Regions from separate parts of the Homo sapiens genome. Here region 1 is linked to region 2. Evidence: fine-mapped expression QTL. A gene starts in region 2. The other region holds a variant in brackets. All regions are shown on one strand. Distances are from middle to middle.

Region 1 (5,386 bases), 21 kb after region 2:
TCTTTCTCTCTCTCTCCCTCCCTCCCTCCCTCTCTCTTTCTCTCTCTCTCCCTCCCTCTCCCTCTCTCTCTCTCTCTCTCCCTCCCTCTCCCTCTCTCTCTCTTTCTTTTCTTTCTTTTTTTTTTTTTGAGACGGAGTCTCACTCTGTCGGCCAGGCTGGAGTTCAATGGCATGATCTCAGCTCACTGCAACCTCCGCCTCTAGGGTTCAAGCGATTCTCCTGCCTCAGCCTCCCAAGTAGCTGGAATTACAGGTGCCTGCCACCATGCCCGGCTAATTTTTGTATTTTTAGTAGAGATGGGATTTCGCCACATTGGCCAGGCTGGTCTCAAACTCCTGACCTCAGGTGATCTGCCCGCCTGGCCTTTCAAAGTGCTGGGATTACAGACATGAGCCACCGCGCCCAGCCTGTACAAACTTTTCTATTCCATTTAAGAAGGTCCACTCCTCACCCCAAAGCTCCCCAAAACATTCTGTGGACCTCTTAGAAATTACAGATCCCAGGTTAAGAAATACTGCTTTAAATTAACCTCTCAAATTCTGCTGGCCTTGCTGATAGCAGCGTTAACAAATCTCCTGAAATCCCAGCAAGGACAGGCAGATAGATGCCTACATTTTGTTGCTTTTGTTCACAAAGATCTTTTCTTCCCCTGCTACTGGGACCAAGACATTAACTGTAACATTTTCAAGAACAAATAGTACTTTCAGTGCTTTTCTGGAGTCTCAGCCACACCCTTGGGCCAACTTTACAAATGCCGAGGAGAAAGAAAAAGAAAACAGAGTTGAGAGCGATTTCTCCTGGGGCTCAGGGGGTCCCCGCCATTCTTGCAGCCCAAGCAGCTGCGCTCCTGCAGAACCTTTTTGGAGCTGAGTGGCGGTGAGACTTTCTCCAGCTAGCAAACATTCAGCAAGTGTCTGCTCTTAGAGGAGCAGAAATTTTGGGGTTTCAGTGGCTAAAGATTTCCATCCTGGGAGCCTGTATTAGAAAGAAAGAGAAACGCCCCAGAGCACCAACAGTGGCCACTTTGTTTATTGTTTCGCCACATGAGAGAGAAGGGGAGAAGTGGGCTGATGTAAGAGAATGAGAATGCCGTGGAAGATTTGCTTTTAAGCATATAAAACCCTGCCTACGCCATAAGACCAAAAAAAGATATTTTGTCTGTCTTAACAGAGTCCAAACTAATCATCCAAACAAAGCCACCTTTCTTCATCAACTCCTGGCCACTACAACACTTAAGTTATAATTCTTCTGTGTTTTTAACCCTTAAACAGTTAAGCTCCTCTGGAAGCAATGTCGCCACACACACACACACACACACACACGCACACACTTTTTTTTTTTTTAAGTTTGGAAGGCAATATCACAATCCAAGACAAAGGGGAGCATTTAATGGGAGGAGAGGCTGCGCGGCAGATTTTTTCTGGTGAATGTCAAGATGCAGTTCTTCAGTAAATAGGAAAGCCAGAAAATGTGCAACATGAAACCAGGCAAAGGGGCCCAGCTGGAATGATTAAAGGCAATGATCCCCACATCCCCCACCTTCTGACACACACACACACACACACACACACACATCTATAGTCACATATGCAGTGAAGGAGTAGTTCCAGTTTTGTCCCTGCAAATAGGAATGAGAATAAAATTTTAATCACAGCAAGAGCCTTTCCAAAATAAAAAGTCAACGATACTCAGCCAAAACAAATTCACCTGCGTTTCCCAAAGGTCTTTCTTTCACTTTGCATCTCCAACGTAAGTCCTTAAAGAAATCAGTTAACAAAGTCTAAGGGACATGTTGCACCCTAAATGTCTTGGATTGCCTTCTTATTATGAATGAAGAGACTGAGTAATTCAGACTGCACATCCATGTGGTATCATGCTGTTCTCATTGTTCTAGGGAAACCAGTACCATCTTTTTTTAAATCTTTGCCTCCAGGACAGCAAGGCTCAGTGATCTATGTGTTCAATTTTGTCCAGCTTAGTGAAATTAAAGACATCCAAGAATTTGTGAAAGCCCTCAGACAGGACACTTTAGAACAGGAACCTGCCTCTGTGGCGATAAGCACACAATGAACGCAGTCAGTGCCCACAGACCAGTTGAAAATGGAAAGCCTCAGACTTGCTTTGTGCTATTATCAAGGGGCATCACCCGTGTACTCTAGGAGGGTGAACTCAGCCTCATAAAATACATCCTTTCACTTTAGAAACAGGCACCTCGGGTCCCAGGATGGTCAAATAAAACCTTTGAGTACTGCCCACAGCATTTATCCCCACACTGACTTAGTGTCCCACTCTGTTCACCTGAATTGTACTTAAAGTCTGTTTCTAAAGTAC[A/G]TTTGCTAGCCAACCCAGCTCAGCAACCATAGGAAATGGGTTTGTCTGTCTACTTCGTGATTCTGCCCTTTGGCTCTGATGCAAATGTGAACCCATTAATCACACTGGAATGAAGTGAAGGACCCTCTTGTCTGGAGTATCACATCTCCCCTATAACTCTCACTAGTTAACGGACATTAAGTGCTGGTTTTTTCCTGTCCCCACAGAGATTTCCTGTAATACAATCATGTATCTCAAAATTCAAACACCTACACCCACAAACTGATGGCTTATAGGCTTTATAAGTGGTTAAAGAAATGACAATAAGAAATAGAGTTGGTTTCATATAAAATACATGGGAATTTATAAATTCAAAAGATTGTTCTCCTTTAGGGTAAACTGGGCTTCTTTAAAACAACTTTGTTTTTGACAAAATATTCAAAATATTATGAAGGTGTGTCTTTTGGAGTTAAAGAGTGCACTGATGCATAATGTGGTCACTTAAAAGCCAAAGCTCATTTAGAAAAAAAAAAAAAAAAAACCGAAAACAGGTCTTACTTAGTCACCCACTTTATTCACTCAAGCTCACTCTAAGCAATGTATATCTACTTCCAAAAATTCTTCAGAGAATACTTGGAATTTTAAAGATATTTAAAACAGTTTGGCCAGGTGTGGTGGCTCACACCTGTAATCTTTGTACTTTGGGAGGCCAAGGTAGGCGGATCACTTGAGGTCAAGAGTTTGAGACCAGCCTGGCCAACATCGTGAAACCCCATCTCTAGTAAAAATACAAAAATTAGCTGGGCATGGTGGTGCACATCTGTAATCCCAGCTATTAGGGAGGCTGAGGCAGGAGAATTGCTTGAACCGGGAGGTGGAGGTTGCAGTGAGCCAAGATTGTGCCATTGCACTACAACCTGGGTGACAGAGCAACCCTCCGTCTCAATAAATAAATAAATGAATAAATAAATAAACAAACAGTAAAACAGTTTGTCATACAGGTGTCTATATTACTGAGCAAGACAGCAATTGGTGTAATGAATATATTACTTCTACCACTGTTTTTTTTTTTAAATAACTCTGGTTCTTTTAAAGGCTATTTGGCAAATATGTTGTAAATTTTTTTGGGAATTCCATTTTTTTAAATGTGTGTGCACCTCTGGAAGGAACGAACAACTGGCCTACCAAGTTAATCCACCTTGACAAATAATAGTAGGACAACTTCAGCTTGCACATCCACAGAGAGTACACCATTTAGGTAAGTGGTGATCAAACTGTAAAGTTCTTAAGAATCAACTGGGTGCTGGTTAAAATACAGATTTCTAGGACTGTTCCTAGAGGTTTTGATTCTGAGGTGAGGCCTAGGAATCTACAGCTTAACAAACCTTCCAAGTGATTCTGACACAGAGTTCATGAACCACACAGCTGATTAAACCTACTTGGACTCGTTGCATTGAGTAACAGGTTCTGTGCTCTATAGCTTAGACCAGATGGTTGTGTTAGTGCGTGTTAAGGAATGAGGTCACCTCTTCCTAGAGGCTAGGCTAGGGAAGGTTACACTGTCTATACGTTTGATGATATTCCGTTCTGGGGAATTTTGTTTTCAATGTAGTCACTCTATATTCTGGGATAGATATTTGGTATAATCCTCTCTTCTCCTCTCTGCCTCCCCCATTCTCATCTCCTAAAGAAGAAGGGCTTTATGGCTGGGCGCAGTGGCTCACACCTGTAATCCCAGCACTTTGGAAGGGCTAGGTGGGAGGATGACCTGAGGTCAGGAGTTCAAGACCAGCCTGGCCAACATAGTGAAACCCCATCTCTACTAAAAATACAAAAGTAGCCGGAAGTGGTGGTGGGCACCTGTAGTCCTAGCTACTTGGGAGGCTGAGGCAGGAGAATCTCTTGAACCTGGGAGGTGGAGGTTGCAGTAAGCTGAGATCGTGCTACTGCACTCCTGCCTGGGCTACAGAGTGAGATTCCAACTCAAAAAAAAAAAAAGAAAAAAAGAAGAAGAAGAAGGGCTTTTACCAGAGGGCACATGGAGGTCCTGAACATCTTTGCTTACATCACCCTTTGCACACACAAGCAGTGAGAGAGTGGCCTGCATTCTCTCTCTTATCTGGAGGCAGCAAGGTCATCCTGGAGGCAGCAAGATCTAATCTATTTGCCCCTAAAATGCATTCAACACTCTAGGCAGTGGTTCTCAGCCTTGGCTGCACATTGGACTACACCACCAAGAATTTTACGAAGTTCTGAAGACTGGGTCTCAGCTCCAGAGATTCTGAATTAATTGGTGCCGGACAGGGCTTGGGGGTCAGAAGTTTTAAGATCTCTTCCAAATGCTTCCAACAAGGCTAAGGTTGAGAATCACTCTAGCAGCAGTTGGCAAACTTTTTCTGAAAAGGGCCAGGTAGGAAATATTTTAGCCTTTGCAGGTTATATAGTTTCTGTTACAGCTACTCAATTCTGCTGTTGTAGCTAGAAAAACAGCCATAGGCAATCCATAAACAAATGGATGTGCTTGTGTGCCAGTAACACTTATGGACACTGAAATTTGAATTCCATATGATTTTCATGTGTCACAAAATATTCTTTTGGGGTGTTTTTTCCAACCATTTAAAAATTGTCAAAACCATTCTTGGCTGACAAGGTGGCAAAATCGAAATCAGGTAGCAGGTGGGATTTGGCCTGCAGGCTGTTGTTCTCTGACTCTTGCTCTAAAGCAAACCGGAAACAAATGTAAGAGGCTTTGGGGTCGTGGTCAGTTATTAGCTTGTGCATGGTGCAAAGCTTATTAGAGTGTAATCTTTTGCAAGGATTGTTTATACATATTTTGAACTTTGTCTTGTTCGGTTTCTTGGTACAGGAAGTTGGGTATTATAAGAAAGGGGTCTTTCCCTATGTCAGTATAAGAATTATGGGACTCCCTTTACGCTGTAAATTATTGTTTTTCCATTCTTTTATTCTAACAGCACTCAGTAGAGGCAGATGGAAACAAATTATTTTTTCCTTTTAATTATCATCTAACCTTCATTAAGTGATACTATGTACATGAAACAGTGCAAAGTGTTTGGG
Region 2 (5,386 bases):
GCCAACAAAAATAAAGCTGCATTTAAAAGAAAATATCAAGAGTCCTACTTAAAATACCAGTTCATTACAACAGGTGATTCACATTATCCAAGCTTGCTTTGCATAACATGTAGCAAGTGGCTATCTAACAAAGCCATGAAGCCTTCTAAACTGCTTTGTCACATGGAGACCACACACCCTGCATTAATACTAAGCCTTTGGAGTTTTTCAAAAGAAAACAATGTGAACACAAAGAATAGAAGAAATTATTGAAGGCCACCACTTCATCAGATGTGTTTGCACTGAGAGCATCATTCTTAGTGGCTAACCACATTGCTAAAGCTAAGAAGTCCTTTACTATTGATGAAGAGTTGATCCTGCCTGCTTCTAAGGACATTTGTCATGAACTTTCAGGAGAGGCTGCAGTTCAAAAGGTGGCATGTGTTCCTCTTTTGGCTAGCACCACAACTAGATGAACTGATGAAATATCAGAGGATAATGAGGCACAATTGTTAGAAAGGAACAATGCTTTTTTGTGTGTGATATATTTTGCAGGAGGATGTGAATGAGGATATGCTATATGCACTTTTGTTGCCAACCAGCACCACAGATGCAGAACTATTCAAGTCTTTGAATGATTACATATCAGGAAAGTGGAATCAGTCATTTTGCATCGGTATATGCATGGGTGGAGCAGCTGCCATGACTGGATGGCATTTTGGTTTCACTACTCAGGTCAAAGAGGTCGCTTCTGAATGTGAGTCTATGCACCATGTCATCCATAGAGAAATGATGGCTAGTCAGAAAATGTCACCTGAACTTAACAACATTTTGCAGTATGTGATTAAAATTATCAACCATATTATACATGCCCTTAACTCACATCTGTTTGTGCAGCTCTGTGAGGAGATGGATGCAGAGCACACACGTCTTCTCTTACACACAGAAGTGAGATGGCTTTCTAAAGGTAGATCACTGGCCAGAGTTTTTGAGTTAAGAGAGCTGCTTCAGAGATTTCTTTGTAGAAAAACAGTCACCATTGGCGGCACATTTCAGTGACACAGAATGGGTCACAAAAAAACTTGCTTACTTGTGTGACATATTCAACCTGCTCAGTGAACTCTGTCACTTCAGGGACGAACAACAACTGTGTTCAACTTGGCAGATAAGGTGGCTGCATTCAAAGCCAAACTGGAATCATGCGGGTGACAAATGAACACTGGGATTTCTGACATTTCAAACATTAGCAGAGATTTTGAAAGAGACTGAGCCAGGGTCTTCTTTCTCCCAGCTGGTGCATGATCACCTATCTCAGCTTTCAAAATATTTTGAGCATTACTTCCTGTATTAGTCATGGTTCTCTAGAAGCACAGAACTAATGGAATATATACATATATATATACACACACACACACACGTATATACACATACACACATACATATACACATATATATGTATATATATGTAAAGGGGAGTTCACTAAGTATTAACTCACATGATCACAAGGTCCTACAATAGGCTGTCTGCAGGCTAAGGAGAGAGGAGAGCCAGTCCGAGTTCTGAAACTGAAGAACTTGGGAATCCAATGTTCGAGGGCAGGAAGCATCCAACACAGGAGAAAGATTTAGGCTGGGAGGCTAGGCCAGTCTCTCTTTTCACATTTTTCTGCCTGCTTATATTCTAGCCAAGCTGGCAGCTGATTAGATTGTGCCCAACCAGATTAAGGGTGGGTCTGCCTTTCGCAGCCCACTGACTCAAATGTTAATCTCCTTTGGCAACACCCTCACAGACACACCAATGATCAATACTTGTATCCTTCAATCCAATCAAGTTGACACTCAGTATTAACCATCACACTTCTCATCCACAAAAGACGGAATGGATCTGTGACCCATTTGTGAATAAGCCAGGTGAATCCACTTTGTCCACGCTAGAAGAGGATCAACTGCTTGATATTGCAAATGACGGTGGCCTTAAAAGTATGTTTGAGACAACTTCAAATCTCCATACGTTCTCGATTAAAGTCAAGGCGGAACATCCTGAGATTGCCACAAAAGTACTGAAAAGCCTCCTTCCATTTTCAACATCCTATCTTTGTGAGGCAGGATTTTCCACAGTAACAGCAACCAAAATGAGATTACAGAATAGACCGGACATAAGGAACACACCTCGGGTGTCACTGTGTCTCATCACCCCCAGATGGGACCATCTAGTTGCAGGAAAACAAGCTCAGGGCTCCCATTGATTCTACATTATGGTGAGTTGTATAATTCTACATAACTATAATGTAATAATAATAGAAATAAAGTGCAGAATAAATGAAATGTGCTTGAATCCTGTAAGTATACACAGTCATATAATTCATATAAGTATATACAACTTAAAACCTGAGGCTTTTAAGTTGAAGGTAAAAACAGGTAAAACATGTTTTTAAAAAACACACAAAATAGTATTTTGCTGTCAATACATAAAGATACATGTAAATGCAAATAAAAAGAATTCAAAGAATACACACCGCATTGCTAATAGTGGAAAGATACCTCCCAGGCGAAAAGAAATGGGACCAAGTATTTCTTCACTATAACTAAAAAAAAAAAAAGTACAATATATCTGTTGTTTGTGAATTTAACTTTTTAAATGAAAACACTAAAAGGACAAAATGGATTAGTTCTTAATATGCTGATCTGTGGTTATGGATGTTGTCTGGTTTGGAGACGTGGATTTACAAGTCATCAGTACATCGGTAAATTGCCCAGGGGAAGAGGAAGGGGGGGAAGGAGCATTAAATGTTACGAAGGCCATGTAAGGTTATTTTCCGGTTTGCAGCATTACAAGCAGCAGTAGGGTTAAGTAACACAGAAACTGTTACGCTCTTGCATGCAGGGTCCCTAGATACGAAGTTCGAATCGATGGAAACGTAGCTCAAAAGGCGACGCCAACACCCCGGAGAAAACACTGAGCTACTCCAACCACAGTGGCGCGCCAAGTAGGAGGCGGTACCTGAGGACCACGCCTGCGCGCGGGGTTACGCAAGCGCGCAGCCTTTGCGCACGCGCACGAACGCACGGCCGCGCAGCATCTGTCTTGCTGGAAGCTTTTTCCTAGAGGTTGAGCGGTTTGCACAATGTCGGAAATGGCTGAGTTGTCCGAGCTGTATGAAGAGAGCAGTGACCTGCAGATGGATGTGATGCCTGGCGAGGGTGACCTTCCGCAGATGGAGGTAGGCAGCGGGAGCCGGGAGCTATCCCTGCGTCCCTCCCGCAGCGGGGCCCAACAGCTCGAGGAGGAAGGCCCAATGGAGGAGGAGGAGGCCCAGCCAATGGCGGCGCCAGAGGGGAAACGGAGCCTTGCTAACGGGCCCAACGCTGGGGAGCAGCCAGGCCAGGTGGCGGGCGCAGACTTCGAGAGCGAGGACGAGGGCGAGGAATTTGATGACTGGGAGGACGACTACGACTATCCCGAAGAGGAGCAGCTCAGTGGTGCCGGCTACAGAGTATCAGCCGCTCTTGAAGAAGCCGACAAGATGTTTCTGAGAACAAGAGAACCAGCCCTGGATGGCGGGTTTCAGATGCATTATGAGAAGACCCCGTTTGATCAGTTAGCTTTTATCGAAGAGCTTTTTTCACTGATGGTTGTCAATCGTCTGACCGAAGAACTCGGCTGTGATGAGATTATTGATAGAGAGTAGTTAGATGCTGTTAAAAGAGGAGGAAACTACTTGAGGAGGGACCCAACTTTCCGCTATCTTTTGGGTTCATTCCAAATAGTTTTGTGCCATTGAAAAACTTGACCTTCAAAAAAATTTGTTTTTCAGAATAGAACACAATAGGACAGTGACTGCACAGTTGTGAAAAAGGAAGAGAATCATTAAAGAAAAAGAAAAAAGATTTTAAGACCGTTGAAATCAATTATCAAGAACGTCCTAAAACACCTATGGCTTTGACTTTGTTATTGATCCAGATTATTTTCCTTGCATTGGGGAAAATATCTTTCATATTTGTTTGCTGTAAAGATGGTTTTGCAAGAATAAGTCATGACCAAGACAAACTGCCAATACAAAAGCCCACTGATACTAATTATATAATGAGAAAAAAATGTATCCAACTAGGACACATATCTTTTGAGTTATTTGGACTGAAAGCTTAAGAAAACTTGGAAAATTCTATTTTGTGATCTAGTCAAGCCACAGTTATCAAAGGCTACATTTTCAGTGTAAGATAAATGGATGAGTAAACTCAAATATGTATCACGTGTGCTTTGTATCTTAAGATGTGTTTCCAAGAGCATCTGAAATTTTGTTTGTACATGTATCTTGATCATTTATAAAGCCACTGTGATCTATAAATCAAGAAAATCCATTGTCATAACCATTTTTAAAAGTCAAAAATTAAGACATCCTTAATTAAAAAGTTTCAAATCTAGACACTAAATGTGTGTGAATGTACAAAGAAAACAAACCATTGCTTATGCTGTTATATACTAGAGAAATTTTGTTTTGCTTGCTGTTTTAACTTGACAGATGAAGGACTTTAGTTGAACTTCATATTGTAAGAACTGTTAATAAAAGTTGTCAAGTAAAAAGCGCTATATCTAAAAAGACTTTATGAACAGTTATTCTATCAACTTTTAAAGGTTTTAAACCTGCCCAGAAATTACCTTGGTATCTGAAGTTTCCCTCTGTCTCCTCCTCTAATTAAGCTTGTTATTTGTCATGCACCAGCATTGGAGATAATAAAATTTCTTGTTCTGTGTATTTTGTTTGGCTAATAGTATTGCATACATACTTTCTCTGTATACTACTTTCTATTGTATGTGTTAACCAGTATTAAGGGAAAATGATCCAGCTTCAGCTATCTAATTCACAAATTAATTTCTGGAAATTAAACTTTGTAAATTAAGTTTTTGCCTATAAGAATTTGCTGGTCTGGGAAAACCTGCCCTATCAATGAGTATGTTGCCGTGGTTACCTTACTAAGATGCTGAAGTTCTAGGAGAGTAATGATTACATCAGAAGGCTAGGTTCAGCAAAATAAGTGTATCAGCAGGTTTTATCATGATCAGTAAAAATGTTCCAAATGCTTCTGCTCCATTATAGCAGTAAAGAACGAATATCCAATGCAACAGGACAATTCAGAGCCTTATTTATTTTATGGTCATCCTGTCTTTTGGGGAGAGAGATCTGTAAAAGATAGGACTGTGACAAGGCTGATCAGAATTGCTCAGACACTAGCTGGGTTAGGAGGGAGAGATGGTGGAAGTAAAATGTTGGTGCTTAGACTTAATCCTACTGCCTCTTCCACTGCTTTCTCAATTAGCGTGCAGCTACGGTCAGATGAGTGTGGATAGGTAATTAATTGCATGGATGATGTAAATTAGTGTGGGTGGGGGTATGCTAGTGCACAATAA

The links. PIP is the estimated chance that this variant, and not a neighbour inherited with it, causes the effect. A credible set is the group of variants that fine-mapping cannot tell apart.
Region 1: its variant is the best candidate, but not a certain one, in a credible set for the expression of EID1 in whole blood (TOPMed, PIP 0.70).

The regions. Positions count from the first base shown.
Region 1 is chr15:48,896,211-48,901,596 of GRCh38, forward strand. The region is part of intron 2 of SHC4 (SHC adaptor protein 4); the gene reads right to left. Among named protein-coding and RNA genes, the nearest start is that of EID1, 21 kb to the left of the region's middle. The variant A/G (reference allele first, on the strand shown) is at 2,333.
Region 2 is chr15:48,875,073-48,880,458 of GRCh38, forward strand. It overlaps EID1 (EP300 interacting inhibitor of differentiation 1), which reads left to right and starts at 3,062. Exons shown (of 1, transcript NM_014335.3): 1 at 3,062-5,101. The coding sequence starts at 3,105. The coding sequence ends at 3,668. The region is part of intron 4 of SHC4 (SHC adaptor protein 4); the gene reads right to left. RefSeq lists enhancers at 2,637-2,746, 3,017-3,316.